Linked DNA regions of Homo sapiens: region 2 is linked to region 1. A link means that fine-mapping ties the variant in region 1 to the plasma level of a protein whose gene starts in the linked region. Region 1 holds a variant in brackets. A gene starts in the other region. All regions are shown on their forward strands.

Region 1 (8,000 bases):
ACCGCGGACCGAGCGGACCCGAGTGGGCGACCAGGCGCTTGCCCGCCCAGTGCCACTGCCGCCGCTTCCTCGCCGGAGCACAGGACCAGACACCTCCAGCGCCCGCTGCTGCTGCCGATGCGGCCCGGACACTTTTAGCTGGGCGGGAGGGCTGGAGAGCCGGGGGCCGCCGAGAACCGCCAGCGAGCTGTGCCGAGAGCCGCGCCGACCCGCTGCGATCAGGGACAGGCGCCCGCCCGCCGCCGCCGCCTGGCCGCTATGGATCTATTCGACTTTTTCAGAGACTGGGACTTGGAGCAGCAGTGGTAGGTGTTGATTTTTGCCTTCTCCTTTGATGAGCGAGTCTCCTGGCGAAGTCTGAGGTTTTCGCCTTTGTTAAGAGGAGCTGAAGCTGTCGTGGGGGGCGCCCCGGACTCCCTCCCACTTGCTCTCAGCCACCTCTGGCCCCGGCCGCGCTGACTCCTAGGTCGGATGCCGGGGTGGGGGGAGGTGCGGGAAGAGGGAGGGATGCGGACCCGAAAGCGTCGCTTTGCGCTCCAAGTCTAAAGAGTTGCATTTGGCTCACATCGAATTCGGTGCCGCCCGAGGGCTGAACCGCACGACCTCCCAGGAGCTTTTCTCTCGGAGCGGCTTGCCGGTCTGGCCTCCTTGAGCCCCGGATGCCGCCCGCCCGAAATGTCTCAACTTTCCAGGTGCCCAACGCCCGCGGCGGGCCATGGGGGAAAGGCAACGGCCAGGTGCGGCCAGCAGCCCTCTGCTTCCTTGGTGGCCACCGCCCCCGCTGCCGCCACCTCCATCCCTGCGCTGCGCGGCGCGCACACCTTTCCTTCTGCCGACTCAGCCCAAGTTCCCTGCACTCCCGGGTGGAGCAGCGGCTTTGGGGGCCACCACTCAGGGGACCTTGGTTCGAGGCCGACTTCGGCGCTTGGCTTTCAAGACTGAGGGTTTTCGGAGTTGGCCCCCCAAATCCGCAGCTCTGATGTCAATGCACATTTAATTACCGGATGGACCCCCTTCGGCCTCCCACTGGGAGGCAGCCGTAGTTTTTTGTAAGGGACCTCCAGCTCAGATTCAAAGGTTGAGTCAGCTCTTCACAAAATACCCTAAACTTGTCGCTGAGACATTTTGAAAGATGGTAGAAAGGTGACTGGGGACCTGGAAAGTTGTTAACTCTCTTAGAGATGTGCGTGCGCGTGTGCATAAATACTGATATACATATCTATTAACTTTTCAAAAACTTCACCTACTACAAACATTATCACAGTTTATTTGTCATAATACTTAAACGTATCAGATTCCCCCCGCAGTCTAAGGAATTAGATGGGGAGGGGGCGCAGTGGTAACCGCTTAAAATTGCATTCTTGGTTATTGCCTTTTAAAATGTATTTAGAATGATCTGTAGTACCTACCAATAGTGCGAAATCTTTTGCAATGTTAAACTACTAGCGGCCGTTGGTTATGAATGCTGTGTATTTTTACAAGGATTTCCCCTGTTGATGTGATATTTTAGGCAATTTCCTTCTTTAAAAAAGGGTCATATGCTTAGCCAACAGCTTCATTATGCCAATCATGCCTCCTTTAGTTGCAAATCCAAGATA[G/A]TCAGAACTTAAATACATTTTATTTTACAGCAATTCCGGATAAATCCTTGAAGCGCAAATTATGCTGTATCAGTATTAATCTATAAGGCGTTTTGGATACCACGGTTTTATCAGCTCTGTAGAAATACATTGTTACATTAAAAAATGCTGTTATTTGAAAGTAAAAATTACTATAAAATTATTGCTCAATTAGATATTATGCTTCTGCACACAGCCTTTACTCTGCTTCACTAATTTATTTTGCAGACAACTGATAACCATAGCACTCTATTTGCATACAATTTGCCTAATATGTGGTGTGGGTTACATCGTTAATTTAACAGACATTGTTATAATTAATTTCATGGGTATAGTTCAAATGTTAAACATATACAAGGTATTAGGTTTTTAGAAACATGTTTTTTATATTAATTCCGGTTTAATCTTATGCATATGCAATTGCATATTTAAAGGGAATGGACTCTTTTATGTTTGATTTCTTTAAAAAAAATGATAGGCTCCCTCACCCCTGTGGGAGGCTTTCTTTTTCTTATCTTAAGGAAAATGCAAAACCTTTTTTTCCTCCAGATCCCTAACTGAGACACATCAGTTAAGAAGCATAGACTTGGACACTTCGTGAATATTATGTGAAATACTGATTAATTAGTGTAACGCATCTGCATAAATAAGCCTGTCCTTTCCCTCTGTACATGATCCAGGAAAATTTCTCCTTCTTACTGCTCGTGAGTGGCACACTTCGTGATGCATCTCTGTTTATAAACATTTGTAATGTGGTTGTGCTTTTGTGTTTTGTATAGCTCCACAGAGAAAAGGAACATAAATGTGACAATAGTGGATGAACTAAAAAGCTTGACATTGTCTTGAGTGGAAATTGGTACCTTTCCCACTTCTCTTTGGAAGTCCAGAGCATGCCAGTTACGTGTTCATTATATGTTTACTTCCATTCCTTGGGAGTAAATAGCTACTTAAAGTGATGGCCTCCACTCCCCACGCCCCCAAGCCCCCAGGAGGGCCAAGAAAGGAAAAAAGACCAGCAAAGTTAACGATCTTATTTACCTTGAATTTATTCTTAACATTCACTTATGGAACAGTAAGCTCTGAGCTGTCTCTACTGCAACCCTAGATGTCTGACAATAAATGGATCAGGACAGCTTAAAAACAAACTCATTTTCCTAGACATAATGAAGAAAGACTTTACATACACAGGCATATGTGTTATTTGCAAACACTTGACTGTAGTAAACAAAAAGTGTGTGCCCATTTATAAACACACACATTTGTTAGGGCAAATGCAAATGGAAAGGATGGGGTACTAATGATGCTGCAGTGTGCATGTTATGTGCAGTGTTTTGGAATGCTCACATGCCTAATGGAACATACCACTGGATTTCACAAACTGCAAGAATAACTTAATGGGTCATGCTCTGGACTCGATTAAAGGGCCAAAGCTCAAGTTCTTTAAGATTCTTGGATGAATGAGCAATGTTCACCTGAGTCTGAATTTAATATAAACCATTCTGTGAAAGAAAAAGATGGCACAGATGTCTGTCTGTGTGCATGAAAGACATCACTTGCTCTTAAAGAAAAAGATAAATTAAAAAAAAATCAAATTTCTTCATTTAAATCATTCCATAGACTTGTTTTTGGTAACCAAGTAAATGAATACTTGAGGTGACTGAAGATCAGGTAATGATGTCATTAATCCCCATTTAAGAGGGAAAAAAAGCAAATTCAGAGGGCCTACAAAATGTACAGCCTTTCAGTTCTGTAAGCACCTCCCACCCAGTATTGATTAGGTATTGCTTTGTGACAAGCCAAGGTTCTTTGTGGGGATGCTTACCTTTTCTTCATTGGAAGGAAGGAAAGGAAAGAAAAGAAAGAAAATACAGAAAGGGACACATTCTTAAAAAAAAGAAAAGAAAAGAAAAGAAAACCACCGTGATAGCAAAATCAGAACGTTCAAAAGCCTAGTTAAAATCGTAGTTAAGTGACTGTGACAGTGGCTGGCTTCTCACCGCAAGGGACAGCATCAATTGTTTGTAGTTTTTATGTGATGTCTCACAAATAGCCTAATTAGAGGCAAGCTTGCAAACGGGCAGTTATACAGGAAGAGACTTAAACTCACTAAACTGTTATATAAATAGAAAGTTCAAAGGTCTGTGTGGGGCTGTCAAGGCTGAGAAGGGGCCATGTGCCGGCCAGGCCTCTCCTCCTCCGGTAAAGGCAGCCCCCAGGGCCTGCCCCAGCAGTCCGAACTGCACTTTCCCCAGTTTTCTTCGACCTTGCGAGGGCGGGGCAGTGCCGGAGAAGGGGCGGGGGGCTGCTTTCTAGACAAAAGTGAACTGTTTCAGCTCCAGCCGGGCATGGCCCATGCACTGCAGCAACCCGGCTGCCTCCTCCTGTTCTGTGCGCACAGGTCTTCCGAGGCCTCGTTAGCTACAATCCTCCAGAAGAGCGGAACAGGACTGTTTATGGATGGGAAGGTGTGGGAGATGGGGGGAACACAACCTTTGCCAACTTGGAGATACTAGGGCTGTGGTGGGGTGGGGGGAGGGGAAGTCCTGTTTTGAATAAGGCCTAGAGATTCCCAGCATTTCTTGTTCTCTACCTCCATCCATTTATCTTTCCCGTTTTCCCTCTGTGGTCTCTTAAAAGGGAGACTGCCTATGGTCTGTTTTCTTTGCTAGTACAGTATGCATTCTCCCGTGTGTTTGAGCATTCATTCAACAAACCATTTTAGGTTGTGTTTCTTAAGGGAATGTGTGGGTAGGAGAAATTTAAGTTGGTGAAATTCACTAGTAAGGTCTCCTCCGCAACTCCCCAAACCCTCCAAAGAATAAAAGCTATCTCAGTACATCTTAAGAGGCACATCTATTGGACACGGAAGAAAATTATCTCATGGTAGAAATCAGTTTAATGATACATGAATTGTTTTGCTAATGATTCAGTCAAGCATTTAACAACTTTAAAATATACAAATCAAGGTAGAAAATGACTGCCTGGAAAATGAGTCCATCATTATAGACATGAATGAGATTCCATACATTTAAGCATCCTGTAGATGGATACAAATTATATTGTATTTAAACATGCTAATTATTGTTGAATAGAAATGGCTTTAATGTACTAACCTTTAACATGTAATAAATGCCCATGATTCTTAGCTAAGATTATTTTGCCATGCAAAATTTGCACTTATTTAACATAATTTCAAAATTGTAGAAGTCCAATGAAATGGCCTTCTCTGGAACAATTTAGAGCTGTGGCCTTAAGAGCTTGTAACTGTAGGTCATACCTCAAAGCGGAAAACTGCCATATACTTGATTAGCCTGTCACGTAGACAAAACAATTTTTGCTGCAGTGACTGCATTTTTCACTTGTAATTTTGTTTTTCTTTTTCTGATTGCTGTTGGATAAAGAGAGATTTCAAAAACTTGCTTACTGATAAATGGAAAGAAATGTTACTGATTAAAGAACTCAAGACCAAACTTGAAGAAACCTTTTTGAGTGTGTGTGTCTGTGTGTGTGTGTGTGTGTGTGTGTGTGTGTTACCTGTGGTAGAACTCAACATTATCATTGCTACTATAATTTGAGTGTTTACTCTGTGCCACAAGCTTGGACTAAATTCTGTAAAGACTCAATTTCGTTTAATCCTTCCAACAACTTTCTGAGATAGGACCTGTTATGATCCCTGTTTTACAGATGAAGCAATGAAATCACACAGGTACTCACTCAGTGATGCAATCCAGGTTTCAGCATAGATGGAGCTGACTCCAGAGCCTGCATCATCAACAACTGACGTTTTGTCTGAGCCTTTCCAACATGTGGAATGCTCTTCCACATGCTATCTCATTTGATCATTGTGAGTTAGAATGTTCAGGGGTTCTTGCCATTTTATTGAATGGCAAATTCATTCATTTTTTGTGTGGATCCGAATATTTATTTAGCCGTCACTGAAACAAATGGATTGGATTGTGTATATTGTACTTGTGGAAGAAATCTGTGGAATTACCATGTAATTTGACCAGCCATGGAACTCTGCTTTTTCCTTTTAATTAGAAAGAGAACAGTCTATATACTGATACAATCTCTTAGCATGTCATTTATGGATGCCCCCTTCATGAAAATGTGAGAATGGAAAATTATATATATATATATAAAGGAGACAAATCTCAAGTCCTTGAGAATTGTTCATTTAAATCTGAATGCTCAAATTTTGAAGATTTGATACTTGAACATAAAGAAGACCATGGTATATTTTTTGGCTCATTTGGAGCCTCAAAACTGGAGGTGGGAAGTTGGTAACATTTCTTTCCAAAGCTTTCTAATCTTACCATATGTATTAATTGATTGGACCCTCACAATAACCTTAAAGATTTGTTAGGATTGATATTTTAGCTTCATTTTGTAGATAATAAAACGGAAGTTCAGAGAGGTTAAGTTACTTGCCTGAATTTGCACAGTAGGTGAATAGTCTTAGGATATGTGTTTGTTGCTCTTTTCGCTGCATCACCACTGGTGCATTAAGTTGTTAATATTTAAATATCCACGTTGCTTCCTAGAGAATGGTGTGTCACCCTCTGGCATCATTTAGCACAGTGTTTTTCCATCAGAGGTACTCAATAAACATCTGTTGATTGATGTTACAGTCACATTCGACTCAAAGACTGTTCCATGCAAATGCAGGTCTCTTTCAAGGATAGTTACTTACTAAATCCTAGTGATAATACTGTCCCTCTGCCTGTGTGATTGTATATTAGTTATTTGTAATTCTTTTCATGTCTCTTAGCCAGTCTGATCTTTTTGCAGAAAATAAAGAGAATAACCAATGGATACAGAAGAAGATTAATAGGAAAAGGCAAAAATAGTATCCATGTAATTGGCATGTTTTTAAGAAACAGAATTTCTATGAATTCCAAGATATGTTTAGCCCAAAAGAAAAACAAGAGGAAAGAATATCTTTTAAGGTACAGCATTATAGGAATTAACGGACTGGTATTGTGTCTCAATCTGCATTGAGAACATTAATAAAGAATGTGTAACAAAAATCTGAGGAAAATATGAGTGGTCGGAGGGTTGGGATTCCTCCAGCTTTCCTTGAGTTTCAGTCTTTATGACTTGTATTTCATCATGAGAAGGCTGTTTTTCTACTTAACTGTAGCAGATCCACACCATAAATTATCATGACTGTTAAACAAAGGTCCAGCCCTGGGTTCTTCTAATGTAAAACTTTTATGTTACACTTTAATGAAATTTTATATGCATGTTCAAAGCAAGGCACACTTTACACCGTAGAGAGGGTGATGCACTGAATTGTTGAATTTATTTTGAAGTAAATCTTTTAGATGACCTTAGCGTCTAACATCTACCTACTTACTGAGCTGAAAAAAAGTTATCTGAGAGCTGAAAAAAATGACATGATTTAAGCAGAGCTGACAATAGCACTATAGCTAGAATGTGATTTTGATTATGGATTGCTTACTTTATGGGATGCTGTTTTTCAAACATACCTGTGTATTTTGCTTCATTTGAAAAATAAAATCAGCTAATGTTTCAAAGTAATCTTCGATTTGGTTCTTCAGTAGGTACGTTCTCTTATATGAAGGTGTAAAAGCCACACTTTGAGGATTAAGCTAAGGAAACAAGCTTTGTTTTCATTACAAAATCAAAATCACTCATCTGTTTATTTTTCCAATGCTTCGTTTGTTGGAGAAATAAAAGACATTACTTCCATCCTATGGAGAACAGTTTGTTTTGTTAGATTTCCAAATAATAGTTCTCTGCATCATCTACCATCTTCAATGAAAACCAGATCTCAGTAGCAGATACTGGTTCACTTGGTGACCTTTATTAAACCATTTTCCTGGAGTCAGTTTTTGTGTTTTGTAGGCAACGTATCTCCTGGAAATAAATAGCTTTGAAATGGTTTCTTTTTTGTATAAGTAAAAAATAATATGCTACTTGTTTTGTAGTGGTGCTGAAATTGAAATCTCAGCTTTAACAATCATTGGAAGAAGTTGCTTGCTAAAATTGTGATGTCTTCTTGGTGTTTGGGTTTCTAGTATGGTTTGATCAAACCAACCAAGCAGATGGAATGTGTTGTTATAAGGTCATTTTAACCTGTAGACTACGGCAATATGTACATGACAACCTGACTATCTGTTGAACAATGAAAAATGCAATTACGTAGGCTTTATTTCCCCCTTCAGGATGTCAGCCAACAAATTTTTTAATGAATTAATTTTCCAAAGGACTGATTGTTTTCATGCCAGGTCGGCACAACCACAGTGACTAAATTAGACTCAGTGTGATGGATGTTTCTGATGAAGTGCCGTGGAGAGGTCTCATCAATTTGCTATTATTTATTTGCTGCCAAAGTGCTTGGCTTTGGTGTGTAGACGT
Region 2 (12,144 bases), not on the chromosome of region 1:
CAGAACTCCCAGAGGAAGAGCTTTCCACCCCAGACTGGTTCCCAGCACTAAATTCAGCTTTCCTTCTCCTAACCAGCACCTCTGCACCCCACCACCCCGCCCACTGTGAATCTAAGTATTGGGATGCAGCCTGATATACACTTGCAAAACCCATTTTCATGCTATTAAAGTCAATGTCACAAACCATCTCGTCCCAGCATCGCCCCACAATCACCCCGCAAATATGGGACTTTGCTGGTATCCATTTGTATCACTTTTTCAAAGATATTTCCAATGGAAGAACAAGAAAATGGGAGCAGGGGAGATATACTTTTGATAACAAGTGTGGTTTTATTTTGTCCAATGCATTAATAAATACACTTGAAGTCTGAAAAAAAAAAAGAATCCACGAAAAATGATGTTGCCAGAATGCAGATCTGGAGCTCCAGAAGATTTCAAACTACTAGTGTTATAGACCTTGAAACTCACTCAGAAATAACTTAACCTGGCCCTGCTTCCACTTCTAAATCAATATGTTGATGCCCTAACTCCTAGTGTGCTGTATTTAGAGATGGGCCCTCTAGTGCGTCTCCTGCAGAATTTGAGAGCAAAAGAGGAAAAACAGATTCTTATTTTCATTTGTAAGTCAAAGACAATTAGGTATTCTTCTTTCCTTTAGGAGACATTTATCAAGTTTTGTACACTCTATTCAGGATAACATGTTATAATATTGCTGCACATGATCAAGTGAACAAGACTTGGTTCTTGCCCTCAGAGTCCTGGTATATAATTACGGGAGCTCATCATTCAAGTACCCAGAGGGGGAGCTGGTTGAATTTTCTCATGTGTGCAAAAGAGGAGAGTAAAATTTTATTTCCTTTTACAGTGATCCATTCCAATGCTTTATGGAGAGAGATGGGGAAGAATCTAGCACAATTCAGGGCTCAGGGAGTAAACAACTTGAATGAGATAAATATGATAAAGATGTAACATCAGCTTTAAGACCAATAATGGTGACAGAGAGTCGCTGTAATATTTCACTCCATCCCCACCTCTCCTCCCAAGGGACTACTGTAAATAGCAGGTGCAAGTGGAAAATGATTTGTTTGCAATTCCATTTAGTAGTAGCGTCACATAGAAGGTACTAGAAAGAATGAAAAAAAAATAGCCTCTCCTGTCATTCACTTCCATGAAGCAATTTCTAAGTGTATTAGTTATACATTATTTTCTACTATTCCTTGGAAATAAGCAGTAGATTTCTCTTAATTCATTTCACTTGAAAGAGTTATTTTGCTATGTGTAAGTCACTGAGTCCTACCTTTTATATGGTTTTCTGTTCTGTTCTGGTTTTCCTTTTTCAAAGAAATTAATAATTTATCTCAAGTGTGATTAGAGAAAAACCAAGTCCCTGGATTTCAAAGATTTATGATTTCAAATAGTGATGGTTTGCTACTAATTCCAGATCTACAGCAGAGCAAATTGTGTCTTTCTGAAGCATAAATGTATATAATACAATTAAACTGTAACATACTGTGCCTTCTTCACACTGATGTTAGGACCACTGGTATGTTTGAAACACTCCCTTGGAAAAGGAAATCATTTTATCAAATGACCTGATATCACTGCATATTGACTGACAACATATATCTACAAAAACTTCTATAGGCATATCTGGCTTTAACAGTCCATTTTGTGGAAATAAGGATTTGCAAATTAGGAAGTAGGACAAATTTGCTTAGTGCTAAGAGAAGAATTAATCAAATGGTCTATTTATAAAGCAAGCCTTTGGCTTTTATTTCAGGCACAATATCAAAATAAGCAAGCTTCTTGCTGCCACCCCAAAATTAACTCTGAAAAAATTATAGAAGCAAGAGGGAAACAGGGATTCCAAGAAAATACTGAAAAGATAGTGAGAAAATCTGAGGAGAATAAAGTCTCTCATGACTTCTAGAATGTGTATATGGATGTGTGTGTGTGTGTGTGTGTGTGTGTGTGTGTGTGTGTTGTGTATAGTGAATGTGAAGGAGAGGGGAGTGCTGCATCCAACAGCAGTGGTTGGTCTAAAGTAATGCCTGTTAGTTTCTACTCTTGCCTCAAAACAATCGATTCCTCTTTATTTGCAAAATTCTGCAACAACAGAAAAACGCTTGCTCTAGTGCTATGTGTCAGCAAAGTAGCATCGAAGAACTGTAAGACCCATCCTGTGTGGGGCTGGATGCGGTGGCTAATGCCTGTAATCCCAGGACTTTGGGAGGCCGAGGTGAGCAGATCACGAGGTCAAGAGATCGAGACCATCCTGGCTAGCACGGTGAAACCCCATCTCTACTAAAAATACAAAAAATTAGCCGGGCATGGTGGCGAGAGCCTGTAGTCCCAGCTACTCGGGAGGCTGAGGCAGGAGAATGGCGTGAACTCGGGAGGCAGAGCTTGCAGTGAGCCGAGATCGCGCCACTGCCCTGGGCGACAGAGCGAGACTCCGTCTCAAAAAAAACAAAAAACAAAAAACAAACAAACAAAAAAAACAAACAAAAAAAAACCACCAAAAAAAAAAAAACAAAAAACGAAAGTACCATCCTGTGTGAAGAACCAATGATAATAAGGTCATGTGTGATAGCACTCTCCAGTGCTCTTATACTCACGCCTTCTTACTCCCTAGTGTTGTATGGTTCAAATTAGCTTGACTACTTCCTCCCAATGCTGTTTTTTCCTGAAATGTAATCTGAGGAGTGGATATAATTCCGGGATTGACTCATAAAAGACGTAAGAATAATAGTAAATAATACATAAGCCCACTTCATAAATGAATTGCAAGAATCCTAACAAAATATTAACTCATCAATTTCAAAAATATATTAAAAATATCATGACCAAGTAAAATTATATGAGGACTGCAAGAATAATTCAAAATTAGAAAATTCATTGGTAAAATTCATCACATTAACAGACTAAAGCAAAGTAATATGACAAAAAATACGTCATTAAATTCAACCCCTGTATGTAGTTTTTTTTTTTTTTTTTTTTTTTAAAGAAAAAATAGAAGAGATCATTACTTTGGTAGGAAGCATATACTGCAAATCTATACCCAATATAATGGTTATTGGAGAAATTCTAGGTGCATTTCATTTAATATTGGGAACAAGAAAAGAATGACTAACACTTTTATTTAACACAGTACTGGAGAGATCCTAATCAAAGCCATAAGAAAAGAAAGTATATACATATATATATATATAATATATACAAGTAATGTAATGTATACATTTTATGTTATATATAATAATATAAAATATATTATTATATATAAAATATTTGTAACTTTTGTAAGAGAAGACGTAAAATTGTTATTGTTTTCAAATGATAAGATCATCTATCTGGAGAACACACCAAAATTAACAATTTTGCTAGATGCACTATCAACTTACAAAAATACCATTTCTATTACTGGAAACACTCAACTAGAATATAAGATTTAAGAAACACTTATAACAGTTAAAAAAACTATACAGTATCTGGGAAACAACAAAACAAATTTAAAAATCCTTTTTGGAAAAAATCTTAAAACTTTAATAAAGAACATAGCAGAAGTTCTGAATAAATTGAGAGTTTTGTAATGCTTTTAAATGGTACATGTTAGCATAAAGATATCAATCCTAAACTAACCTGATAATTGTTTACTTTAATTCCAATACAAATTTTAAGTGGCTTATGAATAACTGAGTAAACTTTTAAAAGAAGAATTGCTTGGGCGCAGTGGCTCATGCCTGTAATCCTAGCACTTTGGGAGGCCAAGGAGGGTGGGTTGCCTGAGCTCAGGAGTTTGAGACCACCCTGCGTAACATGGTGAAACCTCGTCTCTACTAAAACTACAAAAGTTAGCCGGGCATGGTGGTGCATGTCTGTAATCCCAGCTACTGGGGAGGCTGAGGCAGGAGAATTGCTTGAAACTAGGAGGTGGAGGTTGCAGCGAGCCGAGAGTGTGCCACTGCACTCCAGCCTGGGCGACAGAGCAAGACTCCATCTCAAAAAAAAAAAAAAAAAAAAGGAAGAAGAAAAGAAAAAGAAAAAAAAGAAAGAATTAATTGGGTTATCTTTTCATATTAGTTATTAAGATAGACTTCAAACATTTGTTGACAAAAATTTAATATTATTGTAGGAACAGATAAATCAACTGGTGGAGGAAAATACAAAACTTAAGAGACAGACCAAACATCGTAACATTAAAAAGCAAAGGAGGAAGAACAGACTATAGAAATATTTTAAAGGATTACGTGGATTAGAAAAGATGTCAAAAGCATTAACACATGTGAGTATAATGTGTGCACTATAGGTATAGACACATTTATAAACTAGTCACAGCACAGAAAAGTATTTGATGCAATATTTTCTTACTTAAAATTTAATAGTTAATCTTTATTCTGATCACTTTCTTTCATCTTATTATGTATCTGTGATACAGAAAGCAGCCTATGCCAATATGCAAAGTTTGCAAAACTGCTAGACTTCATCAAGTAAGAAATTCGTAAAGATATCCAAATAAGAATAGCTGTCTTGCATTTCTTGAGAAGCACTTTTTTTTCAAGGATGAATTCCCTCCCTTTTACTTGAATTCAATAAATAACGTAACTGAAATTCATAGCAATTATCAGATTTACATTACTTGAGAATTCTGACACTCTTCCTCCCAATTCATCCCTGCCTGTTACAAATCAGAAGCCCCAATTTACCTCATAACTTATCAATGTAGGGTAACTCCCAGGCTTGAAACTTGTCATCAATTTAATTTCTTTTGATCCACTTTCAGAGGTCTTAGTCATACAGGCAGACATTCTAGATTTGGTTTTAACTAGCAGAAGAGGCAACACCGGATCTTCTATGGCTATTGCAAATACTCCCAGAGTTTCCTGGATAGCATTTAGCCACAGGGAAGAAAAGCATTTTACTTTAAAATCTTCTGTCTAGTGGTAAATAACCCCTTTCATGTTGTCATTAGGTAGTTCTGTGGTCTCCTACTATCTGACTCTTCAGAATCACTTCTAATATGCTACGGAAGATAAAGCCGTATGTGGAAATTGCTTCCTTAGATGAAATATGCACGATAGATATTATATTTAAATTACCTACATAAACATGACTGAGTAGACTGACTTTTGACTGAAAAACTTCTAAAAGCCTTTTTTTTTTGTTTTTGATCTGAGTGCATTTCATGAGGTAAATTGCATTTTATGTTGATGGTCTTTAATAAAATACTTTTTAATCTTGAGATCAGTGCTATAATTTTGTTTTGACCAATTTAAAACTTTTGCTATGGCATCCCATATAGCTGTATGTTTTAATATTAGTAAAAGTTACTGATGTGAAAGTATGCACACACATATATTCATAGTTTTTCATTTTTCTATTAAAAATAGTTCTAGTACAATTGTTTCCACAAGTCATAGACATGGGAATTAGTTATATTACTTTAGAATGAAAGGTAAAAATTTATTTAAATTTCAAACTGGATAAAAGTGCTTTTGGAATAATAAAGCTGTCTATGTATTAGCTTCTCAGCTTAAAATGAATATATTAAGATAATTACTCTCATTAAAAGTTATCAATAAACTTTGGAAAATTGTAGATAAAATATACGAATATATCACTTTATCATTGATAAGGTATAAATGTGTTGTTCACCTTGAAATAAATAATGTTCACCTTGAAATAAAGGAGTTATCACTTACCAGTGGTTTCCAGAGCAGGATGAAGTATTTGTTTCATCTATTGACAGAAGGAAGGTGCAGAGAGAGAAGGTTAGAGCCGTATATATGAAACACCTATTTCCTGTTTTGGCAAATTCTGGTTGTGCAAGTAACTCTAGATCAACAAGGCCTGAAACAGGATTTGTCATACCAGTAGTCTCAAATTTCATTGCTGGTTTTCTAGTCATGATTTTGAAATTATTTGGTGATTCCTCAAATGGCTTTTAAAAATAAATTGCTATATCAAGTTTTGTAATTGTGCATTTATTCTTTGAAGTTCATATATTACAATTTATCCATGTTTTTGCCAGTCAATAGTTTGAAAATTCTTAGCCCAATTATTAGCATCACAACATTAGAGTTTTCAGAATTATTTCTGTTGGATTGAAATTAAGCTCATAATTTTTATGAACTCTAGAGAACACAATGTTTTTTACAGCTATCTAAAATGTTTATTAATAATCTATTGGACATTACTGTTTTGGATAATAATTTTATCTTTAATGTTTGTAAATACAAGGCCACAGTGACTTTCAGAACTCAATGGCCAAACACACCATAACTCATTGGTATTTCTATATTCAAAGATGTGCTGTATTTACTTGTATTTTCTGGTTGTATAAAATTAAAGATAATATTGATCTCCAAGCTAAATTATCATTATTTGGTTCTGTTCATCTATGGAAGATGTCAATCATTCCAGGCTTGTTTCCATAGCACAATAATGAAGTGGGGTGGACTAACAATTTCAGATTTCCTCTGATTCTAAAATACAATAATCTTAAATATTGAGTTTATATAAATAAAGAAGTATAAATTAATAAATCACAAGTAGCATATACATAGCACGCAGACATTTCTGCATGCTCATATTGGCATATAGATTGCACCTTGTGGTGCATAATTCAATAGTTTCTGTTCATTTTCATTTTTATATTTAGCTTTATTGATCAATGTGACAAAATGTATAATCACAGATCAATGTCTACACAATAGGCACATTTTAAAATTATAGTTAATTTTGAGTTCAAGAATTGGATACTTCTAAATGTCTGTTATAAGAGAGTTGAGAACTCAGAAACTCAGGTCAGATTTTACCATTAAAAAATGGTTAACCATTTGCTGCCATGTCTCCAAGTAACTCCTAGAATCTGTTTACTTTATGAACATGTGAAGTGGAAGCTCTCAATAAACCAAATCAGCTATGTGGAAAAAATCACCATGGAACAACCTTCTACACAATCCTCTTTCTGTGGCAAAATGTATTTTGTGGGGAAGGACCAGACCCAGAAGCATCCACAGCCCATTCTCTTCTCTACTTAGTGGTGTAGAATGTTGTTAAAAGCTTGATATTTCTGTTTTAATGGAAATGGGCTAAATTTCTATACCAATGTGTATTGGGAAATTTTTATATTTTATTATTTTATTTTATATCATATTTTATTTTATTTGAAGCAGGATCTCACTCTATCATCCAAACTGGAGTGCAGTGGTTAGATCAGAACTCATTGTAGCCTTGAATTTCTGGGCTCAAGGGATCTCCTATTTCAGCTTCCCAAGGAGCTGAGACCATGGTGTGCACTACTATACACAGCTAATTTTTTAAATTTTTTTGTAGAGACAGAGTCTTGCTATGTTGCCCAGCTAGTGTCGAATTTCTGGCTTCAAGCAATCCTCCTGTCTTGGCCTCCCAAAGTTCTGGACTTACAGGCATGAGCCACAGCACCTACTTTATTAGGAAATTATTATTCTGATTGTAAATTTTCATATTTATCATAAATGGGAATAATATTAATTGTATTTAATTGTGATACATAATATATGTAAGCTGCCTGCCATGTAGTAAGTATTTCCAGTGTTAATTCTCTCCCACTTTATGCACTTTTCTTCTGTATCTAGACAAACCTACCCCTAATATTTGTAAGCTGTGGGATTGCACTTGAGTTTTAGGACATGGTTTGACTTACTAAGCTATAGGCAGTTCTGTGAGAAATTACCATAAGTAGACACAAAACAGTATAAAAAGGAAAAATATTTTTGCCTCATTATTCAAACTTGATAGTTTTTCTCTAACTTTTTACTGAGTTATGACTAAATGACCACTAGATGCACCATGATGTAGAAGGCATTTTGCTTGTCAAATATTGGTACATTTATTATTAAGCTAAATAAGTATATGTGGTCTTTTTGGGTCACAAAATACCATACACACGTTGGACTGACAGACTGACTTCAATCTGACCTTAAGTGTCCAAAATGGCTGTTTCTAGTCACCTTTGTTCTCTCATTTCCCATGATTAGGTTGTCTTTTCTGTATTTACGTGTCCCAAGGTCATTGCTGGCCCTTCATGATCCATGTCTCCCAATTTTAGCAGTGAGTGTCTTCCAGCTCTTATTTGGATATCTAAGTTCCATCTTAAAAGAGCAAATAGTTTGTTCCTGTATATACATTTTAATCTATTCCCACTATTCTATTGAAACTTATCAATGAGTCTCTTAGCGACTGTTGCTATTAATCATTACATTTTGTTTTAGGAATGCTCCTTTTCTTACTCTTTAAAATTATTCTTCTATTCCTATGCTTTGACTAGTACAGTGTAACCAGATTGTCTATAATATGAATAAATAAAGCACAGCTTCCATCTCTTCCTAGTCAGCCCTTCTCTCATCTTAGATACAACAACATCTGAATGCTGCCTTCCTGGGATTTCTACACTGACCACCCAAAACTGACTAGTTATTACAAGGGCAACTGGGATCCCTGCCTTACAGCTGAACTCTTGACCCAGCTTTTTATGACTTTTACTTCCCCATTATTACCAACTACCTATAGTTTACTGATTACAGTCTTTGGAAATTGCCAGGTCTGAGAAATCCTTTCTGAGCTTCAGTTTTCTCTTCTCTGAAATGTGAATTTTCATATCATACGTTGGTTTTAATGACTGAAAAGCATAATTTGTGTATAAAAATGTACTGAATACATAATTAAACTATTAGTGCGATGCTTGGCATGTGACACTCAATAAATGGAATTATTAACATTTGTATTATTATCCCTTCCAAAGCCTGGTATTTCCTGAGTACATAAAAGTCTTCCACGAATGCATTTTGTTTGATTGAACTGCCAATTCAGGAGTCTTTATAAGAAGTCTTTCTTGTTTTAGGTATTTAGGAAACAATCATAGTTTAACCAGAAATTCAAGTGTTTAAGGTGCAGTTCTATCAAAGCCTGTCAGGGTGACTTTAACAAAATGATTGAGCATCTCTCATTTTCTGTATCCTCACCAATAAATTAAGGAGCACAGACTCAGGTGCATTTTAGAATTAGAATTAATTTTACTCTGCTCTCATTAATAAATAGTAGATTTATAAATCAGTTGTTGTTTTGTTGAATTATCCTTTAATATAATGGTTTAATTTAGTGACTTATTAATTTCCAAGAAAGGTATAGTCTGTGTGTCAATTTATTTGCATTTTTCTCTTGCTTCCTCAGTCCCTTTGGTTAATATCCTGATTACTTTTTGTCACTCAATGCCTAATTATATGAGTGAAATATCAGAATTATAAATTATTTATGTGTTTCACCATTCAGTGTATTATTTATTACACACACACAAACACACATGCACACACCCATATAAGATCACACGATCTTAGGTCAGGTTTGCAAGAAATACACTGAGACACAAATTACATTGGCTCTGATTTATTGAGGAAGTACATTGCAGCAGAAAGGAAAAGAGTGAAGCAGGTCAGGGGAGGACAAAGAGCTAAAGAAGAATGTGTTCTCAGGTAAAATCTAGTCTTCCCTGATTAATAGAGGCAGTGCTGCAGACAGCCTTTTTAAACCTATGAACAGTCAGTCATTAGTAACAGTGGGGAGATGACAAGGTGGTTCTCCTCTGCCAAAGGCAATTCTCTTGAGAGGGGGCAGATGTGGGCACAGTAGCTAATTCTCACAACATCTGGGGGACAGAAGCATTGCCTCTGGGATGGGATCTCTGTGCAATACCTAAACAGCATCCACCATAATATGGGATAATATTTGCATTATTACAATAGTTGCATATTATAAAGATGATGTAAAAAACAGTGAAGGTGCTTATCATGATCACATGATTCATTTATCTCATTTTAAAAGTGAAGGAGCAGACAAAATAACTTAAAAAGTCCTTCCATATTTAAAATTATGTATGTCTCTGTTTAAGGAAAAGGGAAAACAAGGCTCTGTCTTGCTTCTTTCACTAATTGGATGTATTTGTTTGCTAAGTCCTTGACTCTTGCTAGTCTTGGTTTTAATCCAATTCTGTTTTCTTGCCTGTAAAATAGAGACAAAAATAATACCTAGTGTTGTGAGGATCAAAATGTTGGTGTGTAGAAAACATTTTTTGACTGTACTAACCTGAGTGCTAAGAGAACTGAAAAATTCTGTCCCTGAGTTACTGAAGCAGTAAGACTAGCATGTGAAAAAAAAAAACTGTAGAAAAACATATGAATCCACGTGATTGGTGATAATATCTGTATTGCCCATTGTAATGGCTGTAAGAATTCAAGTAGAGGAATACACTTTATGGGTAAATAAAAGATGTTTATATACCAAAAATTGGAGATGAGTTGGTATTAATGGATGAACAAACTTTGGGCCCGAATGAAGTTAACAAATCCAACTTTGATTTTTTTCAATGTACATATTTATTTTTAAAATTGACATACAAAATCGTATGTATTTATAATGAACAACATGTCTTGTAGTAGAGTAAGTCCTCATACATCACAAATAGGTCCTGGAAAATGATGCATAAAAACAGCATTTTTTTCTCATTGACATTATAATGATATGATGTTGAAAAAAACGATGTTATTAAAAGATGTGCTGTATGTTGTTTCACTTGAAGTCGCAGTTTCCAAAAATGTATTGACTGTGTTAAATGAGGACTTACTGTATAAATACATTGTGGAATGGTTAAATCTAGATAACTAACAAATGCGTTACTTTTCTTAGTTTTTATTTTTGTGGTGAGAACACTTAACATCCACTCTTCTAGCATCTTTTCAAGAATATAATATTTGCCATTAACTGTAATTGCTACGCTGTAAAATAGATCTCTTGAACTTACTCCCCTCCAAACTGTACATGTGTGTTCTTTAACCAACATCTCAACATGCCTTCTTACGTCCCACCCATAAGCTCTAATGCCCAGCATTCTACTGTTTTCTTGACATGAAGTTTTTTAGATTCCACATATGAGTTAGATCATACAGCATTTGTCCTTTGTGTCTAGCTTATTTCACTTAACATAATATCCTCCAGATTCACTCATGTTGTCACAAATGGCAGGATTTTCTTATTTTATTTTTATGACCAAATAGTATTCCATTGTGTGTGTATGTGTGTGTGTACGTGACATATATATATCACACATAAAATGTGATATATATATATATCCCACTTTCTTTATCCATATCCATAAGGTTGCTTCCTTATCATGGCTATTGTGAATAGTGCTTCAATAAACATGGGAGTGCAGATATCTCTTCAACATACTAATTTCACTTCCTTTGGATATAGATCCAATAGGGGCATTATCAGATAATATGGTAGTTCTATTTTTAATTTTTATAGGAATCTCCATAATGTTTTTCATAATAGCTGTACTAATTTAAATTCCTACCAACCAACACAACTTGGTTGGTAGTAATAGAGTCCTAGAGAGGAGTCTATTATTAACAGAAAGGTTACTCTTTGTTTTCAGTTTCTTTACAGTTATACTTGGAAGAGAGGCAGTCTCTGGTACATGGAGGCTTATATTAGATATTTGCTAATGATAAGTCAGTTAAGATGAAAAAATGTGACACTGCATACATAATTAATTCCAATGTATCTTAAGCTAGTAGAAACAGCATATCTCTTGGCTTATACTCTATTTTAAATAATTCTGTTTATATGTTTATTTGATATAATCAACCAGTCTGTGACAATTTTCCTCTTCAATAAAATGATTTTTAAACTTTTATTTTAGATTCAGGGGTACATGTACTTTTGGTGTCTTCATCATGAAATCTCTACCAGTTTCTATGTCCAGAGTGGTATTGCCTAGGTTATCTTCCAGGGTTTTTGTAGATTTGGGTTTTACATTTAAGTCTTTAATCTGTCTTGAATTGATTTTTTGTATATGGTGTAAGGAAGGGGTCTGGTTTCAATCATCTGTCTATGGCTAACCAGTTATCCCAGCACCATTTATTAAATAAGGAGTCCTTTTCCCATTGCTTGTTTGCTCAGCTTTGTTGAACATCATATGGTGGTAGGTGTGGCCTTGCTTTTGGATTCTCTATTCTGTTCCATTGATCTATGTATCTGTTTTTGTACCAGTGTCATTGTGTTTTGGTTACTGTAGCCCTGTAGTATGGTTTAAGATGGGGTAGTCTG

Alleles and levels. Alleles are on the strand shown, and positions count from the first base shown. The strength of an association depends on the size of the effect and on how common the allele is.
For the plasma level of the protein whose gene starts at base 5,757 in region 2, allele G in region 1 goes with a higher level than allele A (weak association).

The links. PIP is the posterior inclusion probability: the model's chance that the variant is causal. The UK Biobank Pharma Proteomics Project read protein levels with antibody pairs (Olink). The fine-mapping took linkage between variants from a reference panel, not from the people measured, so its PIPs are less certain.
Region 2: CRISP3 starts here. The variant in region 1 is fine-mapped to the plasma level of the CRISP3 protein (UK Biobank, PIP above 0.99).

What each region holds. Positions count from the first base shown.
Region 1 is chrX:148,500,840-148,508,839 of GRCh38, forward strand. It overlaps AFF2 (ALF transcription elongation factor 2), which reads left to right. Exons shown (of 21, transcript NM_002025.4): 1 at 1-305. The coding sequence starts at 259. Among named protein-coding and RNA genes, the nearest start is that of AFF2, 4.2 kb to the left of the region's middle. RefSeq lists an enhancer at 438-1,315. The variant G/A (reference allele first, on the strand shown) is at 1,599.
Region 2 is chr6:49,738,632-49,750,775 of GRCh38, forward strand. CRISP3 (cysteine rich secretory protein 3) reads right to left here and starts at 5,757. Exons shown (of 8, transcript NM_006061.4): 1 at 5,700-5,757. The coding sequence starts at 5,736.